Regions from separate parts of the Homo sapiens genome. Here all the other regions are reported to be linked to region 1. Evidence: microRNA targets listed by miRTarBase, many of them from high-throughput screens and not tested one by one. Region 1 holds a microRNA gene; each other region holds the end of a gene's coding sequence.
What was found. The annotated mature microRNA hsa-miR-302e reads UAAGUGCUUCCAUGCUU and lies in region 1 at 1,539-1,555, shown strand. An mRNA with a match to its seed (bases 2 to 7 or 8) in the 3' UTR can be bound and repressed. Matches are read on the target gene's strand: a 7mer-m8 pairs with bases 2 to 8, a 7mer-A1 pairs with bases 2 to 7 and ends in A, and an 8mer does both.

Region 1 (4,069 bases):
GCCTTCCCTCACTTCCCAATGACCTAACATGAAAACGCAAAAAGTTACATAGGAATATTGGTTAAAAAGTCTGGTAGATTTCTTTTTTTTTTTTTTTTTTTTTTAACTCATTTTTATCAAAATTTGTGCAGTTGTAAAAATTTTTTTTTTTTTATTATACTCTAAGTTTTAGGGTACATGTGCACATTGTGCAGGTTAGTTACATATGTATACATGTGCCATGCTGGTGCGCTGCACCCACTAACGTGTCATCTAACATTAGGTATATCTCCCAATGCTATCCCTCCCCCGACCCCACCACAGTCCCCAGAGTGTGATATTCCCCTTCCTGTGTCCATGTGATCTCATTGTTCAATTCCCACCTATGCGTGAGAATATGCGGTGTTTGGTTTTTTGTTCTTGCGATAGTTTACTGAGAGTGATGGTTTCCAATTTCATCCATGTCCCTACAAAGGACATGAACTCATCATTTTTTATGGCTGCATAGTATTCCATGGTGTATATGTGCCACATTTTCTTAATCCAGTCTATCATTGTTGGACATTTGGGTTGGTTCCAAGTCTTTGCTATTGTGAATAGTGCCGCAATAAACATACGTGTGCATGTGTCTTTATAGCAGCATGATTTATAGTCCTTTGGGTATATACCCAGTAATGGGATGGCTGGGTCAAATGGTATTTCTAGTTCTAGATCCCTGAGGAATCGCCACACTGACTTCCACAATGGTTGAACTAGTTTACAGTCCCACCAACAGTGTAAAAGTGTTCCTATTTCTCCACATCCTCTCCAGCACCTGTTGTTTCCTGACTTTTTAATGATTGCCATTCTAACTGGTGTGAGATGATATCTCATAGTGGTTTTGATTTGCATTTCTCTGATGGCCAGTGATGATGAGCATTTCTTCATGTGTTTTTTGGCTGCATAAATGTCTTCTTTGTCACCACCAGGCCTGCCCTAAAAGAGCTCCTGAAGGTAGATTTCAAGTAAAATCACTAACAAAGGATGCTACGCGGTCCAGGGCTTTCACCTACCAGAGGATACAGAGGAGTCACTCTCCCCTCCAACCACACAAAACAGACTACAGAGGTCTTTTTATGTATGCTTTTAAGGAATTCCATTCCTGGGATTCAACATAGCTGAGGCATATATGGACAGATGGTGGAGCATTGTATCCAGAGATATCAAGATGAGAGGATAAAAGAAGAGAAATCGTTGAAGTTTCCTTGCTCTTATTAGTACATTTAAAAAAATCATAGTCCATGGGCTGTTACAACAAGTTCTCAATGTTTTCCATTTTTATATTTGCCTTGTTATAATCCTTAAAATTAATTAATCTTAAAATACATAATTGCCAAAGTTTTGTTCTATTTAAAACTGTGATTTTATTTAATATTGACATTACAAGTCCATTTCTGGAATCTGCCTGCCACAGAGGTTTGGTCCATCAGATAGTGTGGTTTCACAGTTAATAGAGTCTCTAGGCAGACTGCCTGGGTTTGAAACCTGGCTCTCCTAATTATTGGCTGTTTCACCTTGGGTAAGTGCTTCCATGCTTCAGTTTCCTTACTGGTAAGATGGATGTAGTAATAGCACCTACCTTATAGAATTATTTTGAGGAATCAATGAGTTATTATTTGTAAAGTGCTTAGAACAGCAACAGCTCCACAAATGGTCTCCTTCCCACTAATTCTGTAATAAAACAGCAAGTGCTGGGGGAAGGTGGGGGTGATGGGGGGCAAGAAAAGGAACCTGAAGCTTCTCCAGTGCATAGAAGTTTCTTTTGCCTCAGGAGTCATCCTGACCCAGAAACGGTGTTAGTGGTGTAACATTGGGCTACTTTGTGTTCGCTGGAAATCCCAGACTAATATTAATATTCATGGGATAGTCTCTGGAAGCCTAGACTTGGACCCACTTATACCTTAGTGCTTAAATTGTACAGACACTCAGACAGGTATGAATTAAACTTGGGTGGGGGGCAGCTTATTCGGCCATCAATTTTTATTTTATAGTTCTATGTGTGTGTGTGTTTTGAAAAACAAATGGTTCATTTTCTTGCTCCTGTGGGAGCAAAGCAAGTCATAAACTTAAAGCAAGTGTCTGCAAAAAACTTTCCAGGCACCAGTCTTTCTGACAGACAGAACATCATCTATTCAGTAGAAAAAGTCAAACTTGCTTGCTATCTTTTAATACTCAAAAACAAAAACAAAAACAAAACCCAACAACACTGAGACTGGTAGCTTTTCCATGGTTATCTCCATCTAAACCTTCATGAATAGATTCCTTCCTCCAGGAATAAGGAATGAAGACCTAGGACTGACAAGCAAGAAACATGAGCTCCATCCATGTTTGTTCTCTGGCGTAAACTCTGTAACTTGGAGGAAGGCTTTTGGTTTCTGAGGTTGGGCTGGGAATTCTGCAGGGCATAGACAACTTGCTCTCAATGGAGAAAACACACAAGCACACACTCAGAGAGACTCAGACAACTTGCATGCATACACACACAAAATTCTCACATGTAGACACACCTTCAAGATACACATTTACATTAATGTTCACAGGTCTAAGGTGTTAAGACTCAGGGAGGATCATGGAGGGGTGAGGGGCTTAGATCAGTTCAGAAGAGGAAACTTTTCAGATAGATTTCTGTCAAAGTAAAATTGAGGTGCAGAGCCCTCTTCGAGCCCTTCATCAAGATTCACAAAAATAAGGCATTAGGCTAGAAATAGCTCTCTGCAGGCATTTATATATACCTTTAAACTCCATTGTTTGAAGCCTATCAATTTGGAGTGCTGAATTCTACTAGATTCTAAGATATTAGAGTAAGATAGAAAGATGAATTTTAGTCAACCAATCAATGTGCACTCAATGGATGCCTACTACAGTCACAGGCAGTGCCCTCTGGGCCCTGGGATAGAGAGATGATTGAGATATTATCCCTACCCGATGATAGTCTAGTAGGGAAGATGAGACTAATACATATGAAACCAGCTAATCTAACTTCAACGTTAGACTATTAGAGCCCAAAAAGTGTCCTGCCTTGTCAAACATGCTATTTTGCCATTGAAATACTGCTATCCAGACATAGTAAGTAAATTTCTTATGGCCACATGATCAAATAATAGACCAGTTCTTCTAGAGAGAATTACTCTCTCCATCCCTTTGCATTGTTTTATAATTTTATAAAAAACTTTTACATGGCTCTGTGCTTTAACTAGGCATCTGCCTGTCTGTCCTTCCTTCAGGGATGTGATGCCCCACAGGTAAGAACCTGACCTTATACATTTAAGGAGCGCACAGTGACTGATAAGGCCATATTTAGCCAGGAGGTGCTCAACTCATCAGCCTTAAGTGATCGGAAAGGATCAAAGACAACAGTCCAGGGAATTCCTCTTGGCCAAGGTCGCCATTCATTACACCAGATAGCACAGGTAGTAAAGACCTAAATCTTGGATACAAATTCGAGGTAAGATATTTTAAACTTGGCGTAAAATTATAGACCTGTTTCTAAGCCCTTCTGTCTTCTTCTCCATTTTAAACTCAGTTGCTTTATAATTTTACATAAAAGGGTAATGCATTTTCATTTCAGCCAGCAGGAAAAGGTTAGGCTCCTCAGGTGCTTTTGAATCTTCATGTTTGCAGACAAAATCATTGAAAGGTTTTGATATATTTCTCCTAAGGGTTTTTCTTGAAATTACACCAGGTCACTCAATCATCAGACAAGCATTTTTAAAAACAAAACAAAACAAAACTGCTCTTTGTCAAATACTGGGCAAGTTGTTGTCTACAAACTTGCTTGGCTGAATTACTGAGCAACTACTTTATGCCCAGAGAAAAGAAAAGAGCAGCATGGTTCTTACATGTTTGCTAAGCTCTTGACCCATGCTCTCATGAGTACCCTATCCCATCTGGATCTGAGTGTTGCCCTTCACTATCCACCTTCTTTCATTTAACAGTTATTCACTGGACACCTCCTATGTGTCAGGCACTGTCTTAGATGCTGGATTCTTGGTGATGAACATGGCAGACAAGGTCCCTAGCCTCAGGGAGTGAACATACTAGTTGTCAGAGG
Region 2 (4,069 bases), not on the chromosome of region 1:
TTGCACCCCATAGCCAATGGCGACATAAAAGGAAGAAAGCCCTTTACGAACCAGAGAGATTTTTCTAATATGGGAGAAGTTTATCACTCTTCTTATAAAGGTCCTCCATCTGAAGGAAGCTCAGAAACTTCATCACAGTCAGAAGAGTCCTATTTTTGTGGCATTTCAGCTTGCACAAGTCTGTGCAATGGACAGTCTCAAAAGACAAAAACTGAGAAGAGGGCTTTAAAACGAAGACGATCTAAAGTCCAAGACCAAGGAAAATTGATAAAAACTCTAATACAGACTAAGTCGGGATCATTGCCGAGCCTGCATGACATAATCAAAGGAAACAAAGAGATCACCGTGGGAACATTTGGTGTTACAGCAGTCTCGGGACATATCTAAAATTAATTGAACTTTTCATACAGAAGACTTTTTTGTTGTTGTTCTTTGAAGAACAGTCTGTAGTATTTGAAGGGTTTGGGGGAGGGAGAAAATATTAATGGGAAAGGCATTCAGAAATTATGGTTTCTACCTTTTTAAAAAGTAGATGGGATTGTGTCAATCTTGGTTAATGAGCTACAGTTTTACAAAGCTGATCACTTCCTATAAGGACAATGGTAGACATTTTATAAAGATGTTTTTTCACAAGATTAATTACTGGGACAAAAGTAATTTGGAAGCCCAGTTCCTTAGGTGGGATAGGAATGAAAGCCTAAACCTCTTCCTTTAGCTTTGTTCCTATTTCTTGCACCTTCCCATATTTATGTGCCTTTTGTCTATTTATAATGCCACTGGAAGAGGAGGGATAACTTTTTCTGTTATTTGATTTCTTTTATAACTTTGTTAGGTTTTTGAAGCTGCAAACACTACAATGCTTTGAGGGGGTCTGTGCCTGAAGCTCAGGAGTGTGGATCAGACAGTCTAAAGATCCTAAAAACTTGCCAACTGGATCTTTGTTTAGCAAACTCACTGGAAATGAACACTTAATGGAATTTTTAAGTCTGTTCTGTTAGGTAGATGGTGATGCTCTTGTTATTTTCACTTATTCAGACTGGATTACTTCTTACTTAGTTACTAACTCAATGAGGAAAAATCCCTACAGGATCTTTTTTTGCAAACAACTGATATATGCAGACAAATTTTTGACAAATTCACCTTTTAAACACACTTAACCATTTGTGAAGGTTTTCTTTAGCTTACATTTTAAACATACACAATAAACACTAATCCTCCAAACTTTCACTGTTTTTATTAGTATGAATATAAAATTTGAAGGTTTGGCCAATTAGTACAAGTCTCATGATATAATCACTGCCTGCATACATATGCACAGATCCAGTTAGTGAGTTTGTCAAGCTTAATCTAATTGGTTAAGTCTAAAGAGATTATTATTCCTTGATGTTTGCTTTGTATTGGCTACAAATGTGCAGAGGTAATACATATGTGATGTCGATGTCTCTGTCTTTTTTTTTGTCTTTAAAAAATAATTGGCAGCAACTGTATTTGAATAAAATGATTTCTTAGTATGATTGTACAGTAATGAATGAAAGTGGAACATGTTTCTTTTTGAAAGGGAGAGAATTGACCATTTATTGTTGTGATGTTTAAGTTATAACTTATTGAGCACTTTTAGTAGTGATAACTGTTTTTAAACTTGCCTAATACCTTTCTTGGGTATTGTTTGTAATGTGACTTATTTAACGCCTTTTTTGTTTGTTTAAGTTGCTGCTTTAGGTTAACAGCGTGTTTTAGAAGATTTAAATTTCTTTCCTGTCTGCACAATTAGCTATTCAGAGCAAGAGGGCCTGATTTTATAGAAGCCCCTTGAAAAGAGGTCCAGATGAGAGCAGAGATACAGTGAGAAATTATGTGATCTGTGTGTTGTGGGAAGAGAATTTTCAATATGTAACTACGGAGCTGTAGTGCCATTAGAAACTGTGAATTTCCAAATAAATCTGAACACTTGTCTTTATTAATTACTGGCTCTTCTGTCTTTTAAAAGAGAACTCAGAAATTATTAATCTTTGAACAGAGATTTAAGTTTTTGCCACTTTTAAAGTTAAATATAGCAGCATTCCATTCAATATTGATCACATTTCAGCCAACTACAAAATGATGGTACTTTTACATAAACATTTTGCTCCCTATGCTATCAGAATTTCAGTTTTTCATATCTAAATACAGCATAACATTTTGTAACATGAGGTTTATTTTTTCCTCTCTCACATAACTACATGAGAAAAAAAACTTAAGTGAAAATAATAGATTTATGCCTATTAAGAAGCAAAAACTATATAGATATTTATCCAATGGGATTTTTAGTGTTCCCTGATGATCAACCTCATTTTATTTCTTCTAATGTTAAGTAAAGCATTAAAACAGTATGAAATAAAAGGAAACTAGGGAATTGGTAAGAACAAGGATGCAAAGTAAAACAATTCTTTTAATTGAATTTTTAAAAACATTAAAGTTGTGGCTCACGCCTATAATCCTAACACTTTGGGAGGCCGAGGCAGGGGATCATTTGAGGAGTTCGAGACCAGCCTGACCAACATGGTGAAAACCCGTCTCTAATAAAAATTAAAAAAAAGTAGCCGGGCATGGTAGCACATGCCTGTAGTCCCAGCTACTCAGGAGGCTGAGGCAGGAGAATTGCTTGAACCTGGGAGGCAGACAGGTTGCAGTGAGCTGAGATTGCACCACTGCACTCCAGCCTGGGTGGCAGAGTGAGACTGTCTCAAAAAAAAAAAGTTATGCATACATATAATTTGATAAATTAGTTTTATAAGGCTTATAAAGTAAGAACAGAAAACAGTTCTCTATTCTGTACCATTTCACTCACACACAACGCACACACACACACACACACACACTACCAGTACCACCCATCTTTCTCTACCAAAGATTTCTTGCTTCCCAGTGGCAAACATTTTTTATTCCGTCTGCAGTTATTGTGCTTCCCTTACCTTGCTGCTTATTTTTCCATTTTTAGATGTGTCCTCAGTTTGAATATACAAACTTGTACGCATGAACATGAGATAGATATAAACTTATATTGGTTAATGTAATTGGATAAGTCTATTCAAAATCACACAACAGGACAACTTAGAAGTACTGCTTTTCTTCAACTGATTGATTTAAAAAATTTCAAATCTGTAGATAAGTTGAACACCATGTGCCTTTGCCCAGATTCACCAGTTGCTAATCTTTTTAGTTTTCTTCATGTGTATGTGTTTTATATGTATATGTGTATTATATGTATATATGTATGTATAAAGATATGTATGTGTGTTATGTGTATATATATAAAGAAACATCTTTTGGTGAGCCATTTGTAAGCAAGTTGGGACATTATGACCCTTTCCCCCTAAATACTGTAGCATATTTTTTCCTAAAGTAAGGACATTCACTTATGTGACCATAATACCCGTATAATATGTAAGAAAATTAATAACTCCATAATATCTAATACACAGTATATAGTCAAATTTCTTCAGTTACCCTCATTTGTTTATTTTGGTCCAGGGTCCATTCAAGGTTCATTTGGTTGTATTGTCTATTTAGTGTCTAAAAAAAATAGACTACTTCCTGACTTTGAATATTGTCCTTGTGCAAGGTCCATACTTACTTTCTCTGAATCATCCCAGTTTTAGTGGATGAGCTGCCCAAGTGAGCAGGAAGAGCTTTTTTGAGTAATGTGTTGATGTTGTCACTGAAATTTTATCCCAACCCACGAGTATTTATAGTTAACACATTCTTTAAAATATCCTGTTGGAGCAATAACCTCCGCATTACACTCCACTTAATCTATTACTTTAAAAATTAATATTTCAGGCTGGGTATGGTGGCTCACGCCTATAATCCCAGCATTTTGGGAGGCCGAGGCAGGTGGATCATTTGAGGTCAGGAGTTCGAGACCAGCCTTGCAAACATGGTGAAACCCCGTCTGTACTAAAAATAGAAAAATTAGCCAAGTGTGGTGGTGCACACCTGTAATTCCAGCTACTGGGGAGGCTGAGGTGGGAGAATCCCTTGAACCCAGGAGGCAGAGGTTGCAGTGAGCTGAGATCGCACCACTGCACTC
Region 3 (4,069 bases), not on the chromosome of region 1:
AACTTGCATTTCTAATAAATTCCCACATGCTGCTGATGCTGCCGGACAGTGGATGAAATACTGAGTAGCATTAGTTGAAGGGGCAAGCTTGATGTCATAATGTCTGGACCTAAATTCCACCACTACAATGTACTGGCTTTATAATATTAAGTTACCAAATTTCTTTAAACTTCACTCAGCTTCCTCGCTTAAAATGGTAATAATAATGGAACTTCTTGGGACTGACATAATAACTAATCTATAAAGCATGCTTCTGGTAGTGCCTAAAACATAGTATGTGCTCAAAAATTAGGTGTCAGTGTGAGTACTTAATGGTACAGATAAGTCCACAGATTTCTAAAGAGCAGGGGTCATTAACTATGGGCTGCAGGATATATCTGGCTTGTTGCCTGTTTTGGTAATGCTGGTGAATTAAGAATAGTTTTGTGGGGGTTTTTTTTGTTTTGTTTTGTTTTGTTTTGTTTTTGAGATAAGTTCTCATTCTTGTTGCCGAGACTGCAGTGCAGTACTGCAAACACAGCTCACTGTAGCCTCCTCGACCTCTGGGGCTAAAGCAATCCTCCCACTTCAGCCTTCTGAGTAGCTGGGACCACAGGCAACGCCCACACCTGGCTAATTAAAAAAAAAAATTGTTTGTAGAGACTGGGTCCTGCCATGTTGCCCAGGCTAGTCTCAAAATCCTGGCCTCAAGCAATCCTCCCACACTGCTGGAGTTACAGGCGTGTGTTACCATGCCCAGTCCTAAAATGTATACTTTAAGGCTCTTTACATTAAAAGACTGTCACCAAGTGACTTCATCAGTGAATTATTAAGTTTAGAACCATCAATATTTCTGGATTATCTGACAATAATGTTCAGTGGCTATAGTTTATAATGTAGCAGTACAAAAGTAATGAAGGATTCTTAGAAAACAGATAACACAAAAGAACTGGGAAATAAGATGAATTTGAGGGATAAGAGGTAAAATGAGATAATTACTATCAAAGTTCCTCTAATCAGAAAATGCTGTTAGATGTCCCAACCCACTTTTTAAAAAGATGATATTTATTGTCTTTTTTTTCCTGATTATAAAAACATATTTATAGTATTTGGAAAATACAAAAACATATACAGAATATAAATCAGTCATTCCCAGTATTAGAGATAATCATGTTTAAACATCTTCACTTTTATAAAATTGGGATGTTACTGTACAAAATGGTTATTTTTTTAATGTGACATTTCTCCAAAATCCACGTGTTCTCTGAGAACATTGTGTTCAATAGCTAATGATGTCCCATTTTTTAGAAATGCCATGATTTATTTAATTATTGCCCTCATCATTTGATTTTAGGTTAAGGTTTTATTATTTCTGAATAATGCTGAAATAAACAAGCTTGCTTATCATATTTCTGCATATCTTTGATTTTTTTTCCTGCTATAAGTTACTATAATTTAAAAAATTGTCTAAATTTGTGCTGCTTTCAAGGGAAGCAGAAGAAAAAGATTATAGACAAGGGTAATGATAATTAAGCAGTCTCTCTCCTCTCTCTGTGGTTTTCCAGATTTTCAAACCACACCAGTTTTAGGGATTTCTACCTAATAATAAGTAACATTAAATGACATATTCTTTTTTACCAACCATCATTTTTTTTAAAACCCCCCCTTCCTAAATTCATACCATTATAATCAGGAAAACAAAGTTCCCCCTTCCCTTAGAAAAAAAGGCAATAATCTTATCAAAAATATTTTATTTACAAAAAATTAATTATACTATACATCCTATACTGGAAATACATTGAATAATTGCTAAAATAAATACAGGCAATTAATTCAACTTTTTATAAGAATGAGAGAATTTGACATTTGAATGTTATCAAAGCTTAACTTAGAACATAAATAGTTAAAAAGGCAAACTCAAGTTTTCATCTCATTTATTGGCATGGTGTGTTTTGTTTTCCACAAGCTCTCCAATCAGTGAGAGTCTTGAGTCTCAGATGTACCTTTTTGTACTCTGAAGGTAGGATGTGCAGCTTTTTCTTAGGCAGGATAGATGTAACATAGATGACTGCATAAAAAAGAGGCAGAAAGGCAGGAAGCCCATTTTTTTTTTAACACTTCTCCATGTGTCTCTGCCTCACCATAATGCTGTTTATTCAATTATTCATATATTCCGATTGTGTTTTCAACACAGGTCTACACAGCACCAGCTACAAGGCAAGGTCAATCGTGTAAAAAATAAAACTGGATAATGGAGGCCTTGCAGTAACTAAATTAGCCAAGTTCAGAGTATGTGGTTCAACAATTTTTATATGTGCCAATCATTGATATACTTATTAAACCTTGATGTCACTTCTACTGTGTAGACATTTTTATACAGGTCCAGAACAGGAAATAGGAAGTGATGATCTGTGTAATTCAGAAAAACAAAATTCCTCATTTGAAAGTAAAAGAGGATAGATACTTGGTGATTCTATCTGCCAATTTTGAATTTATATGTTTTATAATTTATCCAACTCACCCGTGTAAACATTATACTAACATGTAAAGTGAACTGGCAAGTTGAAAAAAAAAAAAAAGACAGGCAAAACATGTTCAATGTGTAGGTAGGACCCAGTAAATTCAGGCCACAGAACAAAACCTTTGATAAACTGCATTGTATGTGTCCAAAATTATACAGATAATTTCTCCACTTTCCACTTGACTTGTTCTGGGAAAACACTGCCAGAATCTCCAAAGATTATTCATCTTTGATACCCATGTTTTGTCCAGTGCTGGATGCCTACTGTTTTCTTTCAAAGACTATCATTCCCTTTTTTTTAAATCTTAATGAAAAAATTGCACTACCTTTGGCCTTGATTTTCAACGATTTTTTTTTTAGGTACACACGAAAGTGTGTATTTTTACTTCCAAAGTGTGATAGGTATATTGGCCTTTTCTAAAAGAAATAAAAACAAAAAGTTAAAATATTGAAAGTTTAAATACTTCTTTCACAGAAATAAACTATTCAATTTTAAAAGGTAGAGAGAGAGAAACATTTTATTCTTTCTATCATGAACATCAGTCAACCAAGCTTCACATTTTGGGCAGGATTTTTTAAGTATAAATTTTTTAAGAACTTATTTTATTTTAAAAAAGGAAGAACAGGTTTATTTTGGCAGAAAAGTAAAATAGAGAATATGCAAAATTTGTCTTTAAGATTGGCATACAAAATTTAAAAACACAGTACAATTATATCAAAATACAGCACAGCCAACGGCCTTTAAAACTTCCTTTGGCATTTCATTTGGTAAAGTTAAAAAGAAAATCCTTCCTAAAAAAAAAAAATTATCATCTATCAAAACAGTCCATAAGTTAGGTTGTATAGGTTGAAAGAACTTTTCCTTGAGTTTCCAAAATCCTTTTCTTCCATGATAACCCACATAAAGCATGGCTAGTGAGGTATATAGGGCAAAACACTTTCAGGCGGATGCACAGTAAGGAAAAAGTGCATAAACAAAGAATTCATCCCATTTTCATAGAAATAACAGGTTAAATCTGAGTTTCTTCTTGTTGATGTATTGTTTTACTTTGGCAGAATGAAAATAAACCCATATAAATGTCTTTGTTCAAGTCCCAGCAGCAGTGATATGTCTCCTTTGGTGGCATTATCTGATGCCACAATACTGTACAGCCCCTAGAGGAACTAAGGTGTTGTGTGTGACTGCAAACGTCAAAACATGGAAGATCATACATCAAGCACCATGTCATATTGTTGTCCCTTCTTCCGCCTGCCACACTTATTGATGAGAACTACATACAGCGTCAAAAGCATGACCCAATAGCATGCATAGAGCAACGTTCCAACAATTAGAACTGTCTGTTTGGATTCTGAAAATGGCCTTTTAGACTCCTTATAAATGGTGAAAATCACACCACCCAGGAGGATTGTAAACCAAACTGATACTGGAATGAGTCCTATGAAATTAACAACAATGGTTTTCCTTCCTGATGTGCCCCACCCAGCTTTGTTTATTGTTGCAATTGCAAACATCTTGGCGGGAAGTAAACTCGACATGTATAACACTGAGTAGAGAGACATGAAGACCAT
Region 4 (4,069 bases), not on the chromosome of region 1:
CAATAAGAAATCACTGTGGGCAGCTCACCCACGCAAGGGGCACCTTGTGTATGTGCGAGGAGTGGATGGGGAAGGGCGTCCCCTGGACCTTGCAGACCCAGCTGTGTCTAAAGGACATAACTGATCACTGCCCAAATGTTGTCCACCACCCCCAACTTCCTTCCAGACACATCACATGGCCTGGCTGTGAACCCCCATCAACATCACAACTGTTTTGACACCAGGCTCAGATGGGGAGTTCTCGAACAGCATGGCCTCAGCAATGGAGGTTGTGTCTTGGGTAACCAGAAACCTGAAGCCCGCAGGAATCCTGGAGGGGACTGCTGGTCTGGGAAAACACCATTCAGAACTACTTAACTCTCAAGTAGCCTGACATTTCTCTTCCTGCTACCTTAGCTATAAGCTGATAATCTGAGCAGCTCTGCGGGGATACCAGGCTCCTGCTCAGCTGTGGGTGGGCAGGTGGCTGTGCTGGGTCGCCCCTGCCGCCTACAGGCAGAAAGCGGATGGTGCAAGGTTTCCTTCCAAACGGAAATCGCCCTTCACAGAGCTGAGCCTGGGAATTACCACAAAGAAACCTCACAAAGAAAAGGTGCGCAAGGCAAATGTTCAGAAAACAGACCCCTAAACCCTGAGATGGCACAAGTGAATGTGTTGGGTGGTGAACTGGCCAAATGCTTGTGCTCTGTCACCACAAACGACCCCAGTGGTCTGACATGACCTCAACGGCTTCACAGACCAGGGGTGTGCTTTCCTTCCTCGTGACAATCTCCTAATTTTGCTTTTCAGAGTGGGGGAGGGCGGGGAGAGGGGAGGTGGATGGCAGTTGTCCCTGTTGTCTAGTCTGGAGTACAGTGGTGTGATTTTAACTTACTACAGCCTTGAACTCCTGGGCACAAGCAGTCCTCCCACCACCTCAGCCCTCCAGGTGTATGCCACCACTGTAGGTTAGCATTTTTTGTAGACACGGTTGCGCTGTTTCTCAGGCTGGATCCTAGCTTTTAATGAAATCGTATGACATGTGAACTGTGCAGTTTTGCGTGTGCCACGAGGCAACTTTCTCAGCCGTGCCTTGGGCAAGTCACAGCCTTTTTGGCCTGGATGCCTTAAGGCAGCCCATCTGAAACCACTTCCCATTCCCATTTCTAGAAACCTTCAAGGGTTCCCTATGAATTGTGCACCCACATGGGTTTTCCTGGAGGATCACTAGTTCTCAGAACCATACAAGCACACAGCAAAAGCCTCTCCACACATCACCCTGAAGTGACCCAAATTCCCATTTCTCAATGTGGGACCTATGCTCTCCTGCACTCCAGCAAGATAGCTGTGGATTCCCACCTGATGCTGTTCCTCCTGCTGCCAAGTGCCTGCCTGCCTTTCCAGGTCTCAGCACACCACACAGGTCGCAGTCAGCATCTAAACCCATCCCCCCACCCCAGACCACTATGAATGCACCCTCACATACAGGTAAAGGTAGCAACTCACTAGGTGACTGACAGAAGGGGAAAGGTGACTACATCCCTGACCCAGAGTGCCTCAAATTTCCTAAGTGACTGTCAGGTGCAATTTAATGAAAAGCCTTGGAACAAATACAGCAGGTAAAACATCTACAATCATACCATCCATGAAGGCTGTATTAGAGATTGCTGGCATAAAACTAATTTGAGGGGCCTCTGAAGTGCTGACTCCAGCTCACAGATCAGTCAGCTGAGAGAGGCAGCCTAGATCACTTGGTGAGCAGCAGACCCAGCACTCAAGATTCATGCCTCTGCTGTCCATTTGACAAGGTTTAGTCTCAAGAAAATGCACCAAGGCCCCGAGGCCAACAGCCAGAGCTCCACCAATCAGGGCTGATCACACTGGTGCTCAAGCACTGCGGCCCAGGAACCTGACTGCAGGAGTGCTGGCTCTACACTAACAGAATGCTGGGCGTGTGTGGGTGGCTGCTGTGGACATTATGGGGGAGATGGGTAGGAAGGACAGATTTGGTTAGGAGCCCAGACTGAAGTTACAACTGCCAAGTTTAAATTCACTCATTTTGTGCACCGTTTCCCAAGTATGTACTGTGAAGGTAGAAGGCACTGTGGCCGCCTGTAAATAGCTGGGGAGGCAAGACACGAAGACCAGATAAATGTTAAGAAACATGCTCCCTGTATGTATTGAAATCAGTTCTGCAACCCTCATACCAGTTGGCTGTAACAGATGCTAAATGTGGTGGGTAAAATGTTTTTAGTCTCATGGTCTTACCATGAATTACTTATTAGAAAGGTAAAGGAGATTACCACCCTAAGTGCTCAGTCATCAACAAAGGAATAGACACACAACTCCTGAAGACATGTCATTGGCACCAGGGAGTGGTTTCGTGGAAGACAATTTTTCCATGGACAAGGTGGGGTGTGGAAAGGGATGGCTTCCAGATGAAACCATTCCACATCAGATCATCAGGCATTTGATTCTCCTAAGGAGCGCACAACCTAGACCTGTTGCATGCCCAGTTCACAATACTGGGTTTGCACTCCTATGAGAATCTAATGCTGCTGCTAATCTGACAGGAGGCGAACCTCAGGCGGCAATGCTGGCTCACCTCTTCCTAACAAGCCATGGACCTGAGACTGGGGACCACTGCCCTATGGTAAAGGCCCTGGCCAAAATGCAAACCTCCATCAGGTCAGGAGCAAACAGACAAACCCACATTTAGAGACCATCTAAAAAAGGCCTGGAGTACTTAAGAATGTCAAGACTAGGACAAATTTCCCCTGACCGCCCCCAGGACTCTGGGCAGAACCTGAAAACCCTGTAACCACAGCCAAACCCTAGCACCACCTGCACTCCTGGGACACACTCTGGTTGTAGTTTCCACGAAAACAGGCCGTACATTAGTAGCACGATTATTTTATTATATGCTTTATAAAAAAACAAACACCCAAAGACATACAACACACCGCCCTCACCCCCCAGCGGCCATTAGGGAGGGGGCTTATACTTTTCCTAATGTAGATCTGGCCATCTTATAAAGCAGACCACATTATTTGTTTCCATATATACCTGTAGATATTTCTCTCCCCTCAAATATTTATATCTCGACTAAAAAAAGGAGGTGCAAAGAGTATATAAAGATAAATGAGATTTTCTTGCTGTTGTTATAGTACAAACACCAGATGACTACCAGTGGAGTAACAGGGCAAAACAAAAACACAAACCCCACCTTCAGTGAGGAATGGAAGGTCTGTTACCGACCTCAAGTAGCTGAATCACCTGCTGTAACTGGCACCTCCCTGACAATCATGGGTTTGTAGGGACATGGGCCAGGTGATGGCTTCTACTTGTTTCCAGAAGGCTAATGTGTCCTACACCCTTTCTTAGTAACTAAAGACGAACTACGGGAGAACCCAGTATTTGGATTCTGCCCAGAGGTATTAAATGCACAAGGAAAAATTAGTTATGTCCAAGTAGCAAGCAATAATATTTTTAAACCAACATGGTTAAATGTTAAGATTTGTAGAAATCAAAATATTTATTCACATAATTTTAAACTAAAGTTGAAGCTAATATATCTTCCGTGGTAATGATTTAAGTGCAAGTGATGCTTGGCTTTCTTTCACATTCATTTCTTTTCTTCTGAGTGAAGGCATATCAGTTATTCTTGAACAAGTCAATACAGCTCTGCAAAAGGGAGACATTGTTCTGTGGGGAAAAAAGGCAAGGCAGACCAGTGAATTATTAAAACTTGCCATATACCTGGAATGACTCAAGTACACCAACACGGCTTTTCACGGGAGGTTTAAAGTCAGCCAGAGCAAGCTGGCCCTTCTCTTCATCAAATCCCAGGTGAACTGCAACGTACCACGCATCCCCATTTCATGTTTCAGCTCCTCTCCCTCAGTGGGTAAGGCTACCAGCCAAAGAGCCGACGTTCACTCCAGCACCTCTGCCCTCACCTGCTTGCTCCTAAATGTGATCCTGCTTACTGTAACTTCTTAAGACACTATCAGTGCGTTGTTCCATGAAGGCAAGGGCCTTGGAAAGATTGAATAAAAGTTGCTAGAAATTAGGGCTGGGAGCTTTAGCT
Region 5 (4,069 bases), not on the chromosome of region 1:
TCATCCCTTACATGCCATCATAGGTGTCACACTGGTGAGAAACCTTACAAGTGTAATGAATGTGGAAAGTCCTTCAGTTACAAGTCATCCCTTAGATGCCATCGTAGACTTCATACTGGAATAAAACCTTACAAGTGTAATGAGTGTGGCAAGATGTTTGGTCAAAATTCAACCCTTGTAATTCATAAGGCAATTCATACTGGAGAGAAACCTTACAAGTGTAATGAATGTGGCAAGGCTTTTAATCAACAATCACACCTTTCACGTCATCATAGACTTCATACTGGAGAGAAACCTTACAAGTGTAATGACTGTGGTAAGGCTTTTATTCATCAGTCAAGCCTTGCACGTCATCATAGACTTCATACTGGAGAGAAATCTTACAAATGTGAAGAATGTGACAGAGTTTTCAGTCAGAAATCAAACCTTGAGAGACACAAGATAATTCATACTGGAGAGAAACCTTACAAGTGTAATGAGTGTCACAAGACCTTCAGTCACAGGTCATCTCTTCCATGCCATCGTAGACTTCATAGTGGTGAGAAACCTTACAAGTGTAATGAATGTGGGAAGACTTTTAATGTACAGTCACACCTTTCACGTCATCATAGACTTCATACTGGAGAGAAACCTTACAAATGTAAGGTTTGTGACAAGGCTTTCATGTGCCATTCTTATCTGGCAAACCATACTAGAATTCATAGCGGAGAGAAACCTTACAAGTGTAATGAGTGTGGTAAGGCTCACAATCACTTGATTGATTCATCAATCAAGCCTTGCATGTCATCATAGACTTCATACTGGAGAGAAACCTTACAAATGTGAAGCATGTGACAAAGTTTTCAGTCACAGATCACGCCTTAAAAGACATAGGAGAATTCATACTGGAGAGAAACCTTACAAGTGTAATGAGTGTGGCAAAGCCTTTAGTGACCAGTCAACACTTACCATCAGGCCATTCATGGTGTAGGGAAACTTGACTAATGTAATGATTGTCACAAAGTCTTCAGTAACGCTACAACGATTGCAAATCATTGGAGAATCCATAATGAAGAGAGATCTTCCGAGTGTAATAAATGTGGCAAATTTTTCAGACATCGTTCATACCTTGCAGTTCATCAGTGAACTCATACTGGAGAGAAACCTTACAAATGTCATGACTGTGGCAAGGTCTTCAGTCAAGCTTCATCCTATGCAAAACATAGGAGAATTCATGCAGGAGAGAAATGTCACAAGTGTGATGAGTGTTGCAAAGCCTTTACTTCATGTTCACACCTCATTAGACATCAGAGAATCCCTACTGGAGAGAAATCTTACAAATGTCATCAGTGTGGCAAGGTCTTCAGTCCGAGGTCACTCCTTGCAGAACATCAGAAAATTCATTTTTGAGATAACTGTTCCCAATGCAGTGAGTATAGCAAACCATCAAGCATTAATTGACATTGGAGTCAATTCAGCATTGACTTGAGTTTGTGTTGACTTAACATTGAGTTCAAGCCTTAATTGACATGCAGGTGTTTATGATAAGAGGATTGGGCCAGGTGCAGTGGATCACGCCTGTAATCCCAGCACATTGGGAGGCCAAGGCACATAGGTCACTTGAGGTCAAGAGTTTGAAACAAGCATGGCCAAGAGATGTGAGCCAGTTTTCCCAGCCTGTTTATTATTATTTTTTGAGATGGAGTGTTGCTCTTGCTGCCCAGGCTAGAGTGCAATGGTGCGATCTTGACTCACAGCAACCTCCGCCTCCTGGGTTCAAGCGATTCCTCTGCCTCAGCCTCCCTAGTTGCTGGGATTACAGGTATATGCCACGACGCCTGGCTAATTTTTTGTATTTTTAGTAGGGAAAGGGTTTCTCCATGTTGGTCAGGCTGGTCTCAAACTCCCGATCTCAGGTGATCCGCCCACCTCAGCCTCCCAAAGTGATGAGATTACAGGCATATGCCACCGCGCCTGGCATTGTTTCTTCTTTTCCTTTTTTTTTTTTTTTTTTTTTTTTGAGATAGTACTTTTTAAAGAGATAGTACTTTTTTGAGATAGTACTTTTTTAAAGGGATATACCATAGTAGTTTTAAAAGGGATATCAGGCTGGGTGTGGCAGCTCACGCCGGTAATCCCAGCACTTTGGGAGGCCAAGGCAGGCAGATAACAAAGTCAGGAGATTGAGACCGTCCTGGCTAACACGGTGAAACCTCGTCTCTACTAAAAATACAAAAACTTAGCCGGGCATGGTGGTGGGCACCTGTAGTCTCAGCTACTCAGGGGGCTGAGGCTGGACAATGGTGTGAACCCAGGAGGCGGTGCTTGCAGGGAGCCGAGATCGTGCCACTGCACTCCAGGCTGGGCGACAGAGTGAGAGTCTGTCTCAAAAAAAAAAAAAAAAAGATATCAAACCCGGGGTGTCTCATCCCACAGCACTTTGGAAGACTGAAGTGAGTGGATCATCTAAGATCAGAGTTCAAGAGCACCCTGGCTAACATGGTGAAACCCCATCTCTACTAAAAATACAAAAGTTAGCCAGGGGTGGGGGTGTGCACCTTTAGTTCCAGCTACTTGGGACACTGAGGCATGAGAATCACTTAAACCTGGGAGGTAGAGGTTACAGCGAATCAAAACCGTGCCACTGTACTGCAGCGAGGTTGGCAGAGTGAGTCTCCATCTCAAACAAACAAATGAAAAAAACAGACATCAAAAATGCTTTTGTTCTCGTTGTGTCATAGACTTCCCTTTTTTTTCCTTCTGGTTCCTCTTCAGTTCTCTATTTATTTTTTCTTTTTTGCAGATTGAGTTTGAGATATATCTTAGTTTTAATAGTTTTATTTCTTAACACATAATGACTTCTGAAAGATGCCTTTGCAGCATCCTGTAATCAGCTCACATCATTCGTTTCTGTACTTGTATATTTTCCAGTTGTTTTCCGGTTGACCCCAAAATTCGTGAGATTTTTTTCCTACAACAATTTCAAAAGAGTTGCTGTTTGAAATTAGTTGCATCCAGTTCAGATCGAGGTCTGCATGCTTTCTAGTCTTTGTTATTTATTGGAAGGCTGTGGTACCTACTACTTAAGTTTGATTGTTGCAGTGTGTACTTGGTAAAGATGTCAGTGACCTTTTAAATAAACATCAAAATGTAGTTTAAGCAGTTAGTCTGTTTTTCAGTTTTCTTTCCTTATGTCATTTTTTAAAATCTTGAGCTGGGAGCTATTTATTGTGTGTTTCCCTCAAGGCCCTGTGGTCCATTCTGGAAAAATGTTGAAACATGGGCTGGAGTGGCATAGAGCGCTGCTCCAAAAGCACCCATGTATTCTTTTCTTTTTTGGAAATGGAGTCTCGCTCTGTCAGCTTGGATGGAGTGCAGTGGTGCGATCTCAGCTCACTGCAACCTCTACCTCCTTGGATCAAGTGATGCTCCTGCCTCAGTCTCCTGAGGAGCTGGAATTACAGGCACCCACCAGCACACCCAGCTAGTTTTTGTATTTTTAGTAGAGACAGGGTTTCACCATGTTTGTCAGGCTGGTCTCAAACTCCTGACCTCGCGATCCACCCGACTCAGCCTCCCACTGTGATGGGATTACAGGCATGAGCTACCACGTCGAGACTCTTTTTTTTTTTTTTTTTTAGATGGAGTTTTGCTTTTGTTGCTGAGGCTGGAGTGCAATGGTGCGATCTGGTGTCACTCCAATGTCTTCCTCCTGGGTTCAAGTGATTTCTCCTGCCTCATCCTACTGAGTAGTTGGGATTACAGGTGCCCTCCACCACTCCCGGCTCATTTTTTGCATTTTTAGTAGAGACAGGGTTTCATCATGTTGGCAGGCTGGTCTTGAACTCCTGACTTCAGGTGATCTGCCCACCTCGACCTCCCAAAATGCTAGGATTACAAGCGTGAGCCATTGTGCCTGACCACTCATGTATTCTTGATTGAAATAATTTGCTTATTTCTTAGTTCTACAGCTGACCCTCTTTCACTGTTTCCAAGGTCAATAGCTGTGTGTTCACACTTCTGCATTTTATAAATGTTCCTGTGAGTTTTTTGTAAGGAAGAATTAACTGTCAGGAATCAATGTCATCAG
Region 6 (4,069 bases), not on the chromosome of region 1:
AACAGAATTTTGACGGTGGAACTTAAAACACTTCCCTGCACTTCCTAAAATTAGATTCATTTGGCAACTGGAGGAAGACAAACGTAAAAGACACTCTGTTTCAGAAAAGAAGTTGTAGAGCCCTTTAAAAAAAATGTCTGAAAGCTCAGTTTAGTATCTCAACATGTTAGAAATGAAAGGTACAGTGCAGAGTGCCGCCCCTCTTCGCTGCCTGGTACAGAAAAAATATTCAGTATTTGTTGGATGGATGAAATTGTATGTAAAGGAAGAGGGGAAAAGTGAGGTGAGTGTTCATGTTAGGTATTGAATAAACCACCTTATATCTTCCAAGCGATACTCTAGGTTGGCTTGCTCTCCTCCGAAGCTGGGTTTTGTCAAACTGCATTCGTTCAGCAAGCATTTATTGCGTGCAGATCTGGGTAGGGACGCTTGGAATCCCAGCGGATAGAACAGTGGCCCAAAGTCCCTGCCACCCAGGGAGTTGACGTTTTATTGAGAAAGCCATACAAACAACCCCATAAACAAGTTCATAAAGCCTAAAGCGATGTGTAGAAAACAAACTACTGGAAGGAAGAGTAACTGGGAGAAAGGTGGAGTGGGGAGGCCAGAGCCTGCTTAGTCAGATCAGCAGGGCAGGCCTCTGGGAAGGCGGATTTCAACCTGAGATGAGAGGCGCCTGCCGCGAGTGGGGAAGGCGGATTTCAACCTGAGATGAGAGGCGCCTGCCGCGGGTGAGGAAGTAGACCCGGCAGAGCTGAAAGTACCTGCAGAAGACCTTTGGAAAGAAGTCAGTTTGCTGATGAGAAACCGAAACAAACTTTATCAGGTCCATTTCTCCCTCAGGGCTTCCTTGCCTGTTTTCATTCATAGCTAACTCTGGCCTTCAAGCCACACCCTGATGTTGAAAGTCTCATGGGCACAAGTCTCTCCGATGTCAACAGCTATACTTTGGTGGAGTACCTTGCTTGGAGAAGAGAGAGCTGGAGAGTCGTGTGACATGAAGTCAGAAAACTAGAAAGGACCAGATCATCGTGGGACCTGTAATTCGGGAAAGGGACTTGGATTTTCCTATTGTAAACATAAGCAAAAGTCCTCTTCCACCCGTATTATATTGTTTCCTAGGGGTTCTACGATAAGAATGGAAATACATTCATGAGGAAAAAAGGATCTACAGGAACAGAGCCATGTGTCTGGGGATGTCCCTCACCTATCCACTCATCTATCCCAGGGTCCATGCCAGCAGCCATCTAGTCTACCACAGACGGGGTCGGCTCTGCACATCACTTTAGAAAGACCATCTATTTAGGGAACTCCAAAGCCACATCCTGAATTTTGGTAATTGTGTAAAAGCCAGTTTCCTCCTCATCGCCTATACTAAAAAGCACTTTTCACAAGGGGAGCGGTTTTCTTCTGTTCACTGGGGTATGCGGAAATGCTGGGTACCAAAAGGGTAGAGTACCTAGAGAGGGGCTGGTGAGAAAAGGGGGAGACAGTTTCGGGGCTTCTAAGGGACAGGTATGGGGAGCAGCAAGGAATGGCATTTTTAGGACTCGGACCAGGTGCAGCTATTCCTCTACAAGGAGCACAGGTGCCACAATCATGTTTATAAACACTTTATTTAGGTGATTACAGTGGGTAAGTTCCCAGCTAAGTGCACAGATAGAAGCGAGGTATTTCTGGGTTAATGCAGGAGCCAGTGGGTTACATGGGTCTGGGCACTGTGGCCAAGGGGCGAGTACCAAGGTTTCTGAGTCAGACCCGGCCAGAGACCCTGCGCTGAAGGTGGACTAATGTCCTAACACTGCCAGCTGCTTTCTCCTCACAGCTGGCCACACCGCAAGGCATCTCTTCAACAGTAAATCATTTCAGCGATGTTAAGGGAACAGACGTTAAAGAAATGGAAGCTGTGTCCTGGTGCGCCTCAGCTGTTGCTGCTTTATAAGTCATAATAGCATGTGAACAAGAGTTTTAGAATATTCCAGTAACAATGAGCCACAGAGCGATAAAGTCTGTGTCTTTCTCCCTCAGTGCCTCCTTGCCTGTTTTCTTTCATACCTGAATTCCCATCTTTAAGCTGTGGATCCTGATGTTGAGTCTCATGCATACAAGAAAAGTTTTTCCGATGACAAAGTTTCTGCTTCCAGCATTCCCATCAACAGCATTCTCTGCAGTTGATGATATCAAAGCAAAGGTCTCTGGTTGGCTACTCTCTGTGAAAAGAGCCATTCACCCCTGACCAATGCCTAATTGCAGGCATAATTTAGAAAACTGATTTAGGAAGCAGAATGTGAATACAAATAGGAAACAAACTCCAAAGTTATAGTTTATCTTCATATTTGGGCCAGATAATGATCAAGTTCACAGGTGGTCTTACTTGAGGCTACAGAATTGTTGCTTGCATAATTATCAGAAACATGCTGGAGTCCACAGCTGATAATCTGCCAACTGCTGGGTAGAACTCTTTTATGAGACGGTCAGAGTCTACCTCAAACCTTCTCTAACCCCCATGCAAAATACTGAATCAGAAGGGGAGCCACACTGTCTACAGCCTTTCAAAAGGAAGAAAGGCCTATGAAGATGTAGAAGGTTCACACACAAGGTAATGATTTTAATTCTGAAGGGGCACCTTGAGTTCCATTTGGCACGTTTCTGAATTTAACTGTCAGGAATACACTTAAGGCCATTTTATCGGTATTTAACTTTTTGGCAAAATAGAAGCTTTGGTCATAGCCATAGTTCTTTAAAAATTTTTTTAAAGAGGTTATCTCTGATTAAAACAATATTTTTAGCAAGTGATACATAACAATAACAACAATGTAAACATCTTCAAATCTAATGCAAGAGCAAAAGCTCTTCACCAGCATCTTAAATACAGCGAGAGTCAGTAGTGCTTACAAAAAGTAGAGGGTTCTCTTCTAGGGAATCAGAAAATTATCAAAATAAGGCACAGCCTGTTGTTATCACAGATTTGTGTTAGGCAGTAGTGTTTTTTTCTGGAAGGCATAAGTTGGAAATCTGATTACCCAAAGGTTTAAAATGTGGTTCTGAAAATAATGCCAAATGACAAGGGTAACTAACTGGGAGTAATGGCAATTAATTAGTGACAACATTACATCTAGATTATAGCACTCTGGAACTTAAGAAGGCCTCTTCATCAGCCCATACGTAAATCTGTAAAGGCACTGTGCAAAATGTGGACGGGGCCGGCCTTCTAATTTGGAGTGCATATTAAAAAACAAAGGCACGTTTCCTAGAAATTCAACTTTACATTAACACAAAAAAAATTTTAGAGATAACAGTAGGTAAGCTTGATAATATAGCAGGTTCTAAGTCAAAAGTCTTGAAGAGGTTTCTTGAACAGCAGTTTTGAGTTCCGCTGGTTCTTCATGAAGAGACAACCCACACTAAGAAGGAGGAGAGATGCAAAAAGGCAGGGGAAACAGCAGGTTAGTCTCTCAGTGTGAATCCCAAGCCAACATCCAATGCTGCAGTCTAAATGTGATCAGAAATTAGACTGGGCTGATTTCCTACTACTGGCTTCTCTCCATTCTATAGAGGGCTAGAGGAAGGAGACTAGAGTCAAAAGGATCCAAGTAACTGTACCTTCCTGCTAAAAGGAAACATCCACTAACATCCATCTATCAATGAAAGAAGTCATGTTTCGGTTCTCATATACTGGGCTACCGATGGCAGTGAGTTGTTTGAATATTATATAATAATAGTTGTGTGTGTGTTTGTGTATACATATATATTATTTATATAGCTATTATTTTTATTATTATATGCCAGGCACCAACCTAAGCAATTTTTATTTATTTTATTTATTTATTTTTTTGAGACGGAGACTTGCTCTGTCACCTAGGCTGGAGTGCAGTGGCATGATCTTGGCTCACTGCAAGCTCCGCCTCCCGGGTTCATGCCATTCTCCTGCCTCAGCCTCCCCAGTAGCTGGGACTACAGGCGCCCGCGACCACACCCGGCTAATTTTTTGTATTTTTAGTAGAGACGGGGTTTCACCGTGTTAGCCAGGATGGTCTTGATCTCCTGACCTCGTGATCTGCCCGCCTCA
Region 7 (4,069 bases), not on the chromosome of region 1:
GGTGGGAGAGTTAGTAGACAGATTTTAGTGAAAGTATGAAGACTTAAACCCCTACATCAGTTACACATGTGATTCTCCTGGGTGACTGGCTCACTCCTTTAAAGATGTAACTCTATCTCCTCTGCCCAAATCTGTATTGTTTTCCGTTGGTTTTCTCACTTCAGCTAGGAAATAAAGCAACTAGTTATTAACTGGAAAATATTTTAAGAAAATGGAGCAGGGGTTGGAGAAAAATAAATATTAATACATCATAGGAAAAAAATGAAACAAGATACATACTATTAAATATCCCCACATCCATACAAAGGTTGCTTTTCTACTTTACTCAGGACATTTCAGAAAGCCAATGAAGAAGTACTAATTTAACAGCTGGGAGAGGGGCAGAAGACACTGGTTGAATGGCATTCCTATTAGTGTTCCTGATAGGCACTCATAAATAAACAGAACATTAAGTAACAGAATTTCTTTGCATTAAATTATATGTAACTAAATAAAACCAAATTTTGACATGGTTCAGGATGTGGGAAGCTAGCAAACATATGCACTGCAAAATCCAGCTTGGTTTCTTTCAGATTTAAAGACGTGTTTAGATTCTCAAGATACAAAAGCTGATGAACTGAATTATGAAGTTGAATTTCATTCATTTAATTTTTTCCACAGAATTTAATGAAAATAGAAATGATCAATTCTTAGATACTGCAAATATTAGATTTTCAGAGGAATGTTTTGTACAGAGTGCATCCTAGCAAAGGATGAAAAACACTAGAATGTTTTGAAACTTTCCTGGATATTTGGCTGGTTAATCTCTTCTAAGTGAAATTCAAGAGAAGAGATGCAATTCTCAAATATATCTCAAAATAACTAAAATTAAAACTAGGAGTTACTTCATGCTGGGATGCATGAGTTTTCCAACAATAGACAGTGAAGGACATATTGTTTGGAATATTGCTATTATAACATATTGTATGAACAATCATATCACATACCAAATTCTGAATTTTCTTTGTTTCTAGTCTTTACTATTGCTACTGACTCAAAGGCATTGCAGTGAAGGAGAGTTTAGGCTTATGGTACCAACAGGCATACCCAAGTATGATATGGGGCTGGAGAATAAAAAAAAAAAAAATATGTATTGCCCTCGTAATCTTTTGAAAGAGCTAAAAGAAAACTCAAAAGATGGACTTATCAAACTTGAGAGGTATGTACCTGGTGATTTTTCGAGACGGAATTTTGCTCTTGTCGCCCAGGCTGGATGGAATGTAATGCCGTAATCTTGGCCCACTGCAACCTCTGCCTCCTGGGTTCAAGTGATTCTCCTGCCTCAACCTCCCGAGTAGCTGGGATTACAGGCACCCGCCACCAAGCCCGGCTAATTTTTGTATTTTGCAGTAGAGATAGGGTTTCACCATGTTGGCCAGGCTGGTCTCAAACTCCTGACCTTAGGTGATCCACCCACCTCAGCCTCCCAAAGTGCTGGGATTACAGATGTGAGCCACCATGCCTGGCCAGGGGGGATTTTTCTCTTCTCCTCTTTAAAAGGAAAGGGACTATGAAGTTGAACAAGGTCTTTAGATAAGGGATTGACCTAGAGCCATTATGTTTCTCCCTCACCTACTATTATTTAAAGAAAATTACACACTTTAGGCATTCTGTGGAATGTACTTATTTTTGTAAATTGAAACAAGCTCTGTACAGAACTATGAAATTCACAACACAAAAGAGCATCTTTAATTTAGCTGGCCATTTGATAAGGCAACTGCACAAGGCTTCTTGGAATCAAAGCGTAAAGTACCAGTAAAGCTAACAGCCTATACTAAATGATTTACAAAAACAAGCGCCAAGATAACATTTTCTAGCTATTACATTTTACAAAAAAAAAAAAAAAAAAATTAGCTTATCTAGACCACCATGTAGAGAATGTTAAAGCCAACACAGACACTTGGAATGCTGGGTTATGTTCCTTTTTGTTAAGAAAATAAATTTTGTAATGAAAGATGTCAGAACAACAATGAAAGATTTATGTAAGAAAAGTATTATCTGATGAGTATAACATAACAATCACATCAGTTTTATGGGCTGTAGAGAATATAAACACAGATAAAGGGGATTTCACTTTTTAGAACATAAAAGATCATTTTAGAGGAAAAGATCCACTGTGAGCAACTTGGTGCATCCTCCTGGGATGTAGATGGCTCTTATTTGATTCTTCTAAGGGTGTGTTACTTTTAATTGCAAAATATGGCACAGATGAGAATCATTCTGGCACTACAGAGTTTAAGATTCTTTGCAAATAATATGTTCAACAATGAGGCCAATGATTAATATCAACAAATGTTATTGTACATATCTAATAGTAGTTTGGTTGGTTTGAAAGGATCAGAGGCCTCCAAAATAGTTTATAAAATAAAAATAGTTTTGCTCTTATCAAATAATTTCCTGCAAGGACTATTTTTATAGGCATGTTAAATATAATTGAAAAAATATTTCCACTAATTTTTAAACAATAGCTTTACCTTTCCATGAGATAAGTATTTCTGTAAAGGTTTTATATTCAATCAAAAATGTTACAAATGCATTTGTATCTCTTTATGGGTACGAAGGACACATTTTCAGGGAACTACAGAAATCAGAAAAAGTTGCCCAGCATTAAACTAAGATGATGTGAGCCTGACCTCTATTTCCCATTTCAATACTATGTCCTTTAACAAAGTTACAGTATTGTTAGTGTTTCCTTAGCAAGTATATATCAACGTTAAATGAAATACTCTGTCCCTGGTTCTATATTCCACTCTATTCAGCACAATGGCTGAACCTGGGGCTTTTTAGGCGTCTCTGGTAAAGGCTCCCTAAGTCTGTAAGGTGCAATATCCACCTTTAACTTTATAATTGCCAGAAGTCACATCTGTGTCCATACTTTGGTGTACTTAGGAACTCACAAGTCCTATGTGGCATTCTTAAAAGGATCTGTTAGAATACCACAGCCCAAATGATCCTGACCTACACTTATTAAAATTTCAGTTCCTTTTACCTAGCGTATAATCTGAACAGCCCGTCTATTCCTGGCACTTCATTTCCAGATGTACCGAACAGAAAATGAAAGTAAACCAATGATCGCTGATTGGTTCTTTCCTTTGGACAGGATTAACACTTCCCTGGGAATCAGGCTCAGGAGGAAACCTGAGAGTGGTCATGCCTGGCCCCACAGTGTGCTTTATCTGAATAAATCCTGAAAACTTAAGATGTTTAGGTTTCAATTTTTTTTTTCCTGTGACAAAGATCTTCTTATCACTTCAACCTTGGAATAACAGATGTCTCCATTTTTATGTAAGATAAAAATAATTATGAATAATTCTAAATAAAAAAGCATTTAGTTCTGAATTACTTATTTCCAACTAAACATCAGGCAAACAAAATAATGTGTAATACTATGATGGATCTGAACATGGCCTTCCAGAAGCTGGAAAATAGGTATTCAACATAGAACAGGTCAGTTTAAATAGCATCCCTTTGAAAAGTGTCATACAAGAAAGAGTGAGAGCTACTGAAAAATTCTGGCTTGTTTTCTGGCCTCCTTGACTTTCCTTCAAAGGGACACCAGGAAGAATCCTCCCAGATTTCCATTGGTTTGAACATTGTGCTCTTGTGCTTGGGTAAGGCTGGAACTATGTGCTCTCCTTGGGTGGCTGGGTGACCGGTGCTGGCTGCAATGGCTGGGTGCCCGTGGCCGTTTTGATAGAGTTCAGGGTTTTGCTAAACCAAGAGTTTTTCGCAGCTTGGATTTCATTCATAAGGGCTCCTCTCTGATGTTCAAGTTCCTAATTAAAGCAAGAAAATCATCTGAGTTAAATAAATGTTTTCTCTTTGCCAATAAATAAATAAAAGTGTGCAGCTTTTTGGAGTCTCAAGGTATGTGCTGCCAATTTTCCTCCCACAAAACCCAGGAGAGATTGAATTGGCTTCTTAGTACAAGGATAAAGTTAAGAGCTAAAAGACTTATCAAAAATCTAGAATCTGTGCTTTCTTTAAACAGTGAAAGAAAAGCTCATTTTATTCTTTTTTTCCCTGCAAG

Region 2: the mRNA of SUCO is a reported target of hsa-miR-302e. Seed matches in the 3' UTR shown: 7mer-m8 at 1,608-1,614.
Region 3: miRTarBase lists HAS2 as a target of hsa-miR-302e. The part of its 3' UTR that is shown has no 7-base or 8-base seed match.
Region 4: the mRNA of SNX5 is a reported target of hsa-miR-302e. Seed matches in the 3' UTR shown: 7mer-A1 at 3,572-3,578.
Region 5: the mRNA of ZNF578 is a reported target of hsa-miR-302e. Seed matches in the 3' UTR shown: 7mer-m8 at 2,119-2,125 and 7mer-m8 at 2,414-2,420.
Region 6: the mRNA of VAMP3 is a reported target of hsa-miR-302e. Seed matches in the 3' UTR shown: 7mer-A1 at 1,649-1,655.
Region 7: miRTarBase lists RABGAP1L as a target of hsa-miR-302e. Seed matches in the 3' UTR shown: 7mer-m8 at 1,469-1,475.

Annotation. Positions count from the first base shown.
Region 1 is chr11:7,233,233-7,237,301 of GRCh38, forward strand. It overlaps MIR302E (microRNA 302e), which reads left to right and starts at 1,534; the gene lies at 1,534-1,605.
Region 2 is chr1:172,609,873-172,613,941 of GRCh38, forward strand. SUCO (SUN domain containing ossification factor) reads left to right here. Exons shown (of 24, transcript NM_014283.5): 24 at 1-1,961. The coding sequence ends at 387. It also overlaps the pseudogene RNU6-693P. Among named protein-coding and RNA genes, the nearest start is that of FASLG, 47 kb to the right of the region's middle.
Region 3 is chr8:121,610,403-121,614,471 of GRCh38, forward strand. It overlaps HAS2 (hyaluronan synthase 2), which reads right to left. Exons shown (of 4, transcript NM_005328.3): 4 at 1,714-4,069. The coding sequence ends at 3,707. Among named protein-coding and RNA genes, the nearest start is that of HAS2, 29 kb to the right of the region's middle.
Region 4 is chr20:17,938,724-17,942,792 of GRCh38, forward strand. SNX5 (sorting nexin 5) reads right to left here. Exons shown (of 13, transcript NM_014426.4): 13 at 2,877-3,684. The coding sequence ends at 3,634. Among named protein-coding and RNA genes, the nearest start is that of SNORD17, 22 kb to the right of the region's middle. RefSeq lists enhancers at 1-582, 215-344, 1,585-1,674, 1,705-1,794, 1,770-2,361.
Region 5 is chr19:52,511,363-52,515,431 of GRCh38, forward strand. It overlaps ZNF578 (zinc finger protein 578), which reads left to right. Exons shown (of 6, transcript NM_001099694.2): 6 at 1-4,069. The coding sequence ends at 792. Among named protein-coding and RNA genes, the nearest start is that of ZNF808, 14 kb to the right of the region's middle.
Region 6 is chr1:7,778,961-7,783,029 of GRCh38, reverse strand. VAMP3 (vesicle associated membrane protein 3) reads right to left here. Exons shown (of 5, transcript NM_004781.4): 5 at 1,598-3,404. The coding sequence ends at 3,385. Among named protein-coding and RNA genes, the nearest start is that of PER3, 3.3 kb to the left of the region's middle.
Region 7 is chr1:174,989,595-174,993,663 of GRCh38, reverse strand. RABGAP1L (RAB GTPase activating protein 1 like) reads right to left here. Exons shown (of 26, transcript NM_001366446.1): 26 at 1-3,815. The coding sequence ends at 3,663. Among named protein-coding and RNA genes, the nearest start is that of CACYBP, 8.3 kb to the left of the region's middle.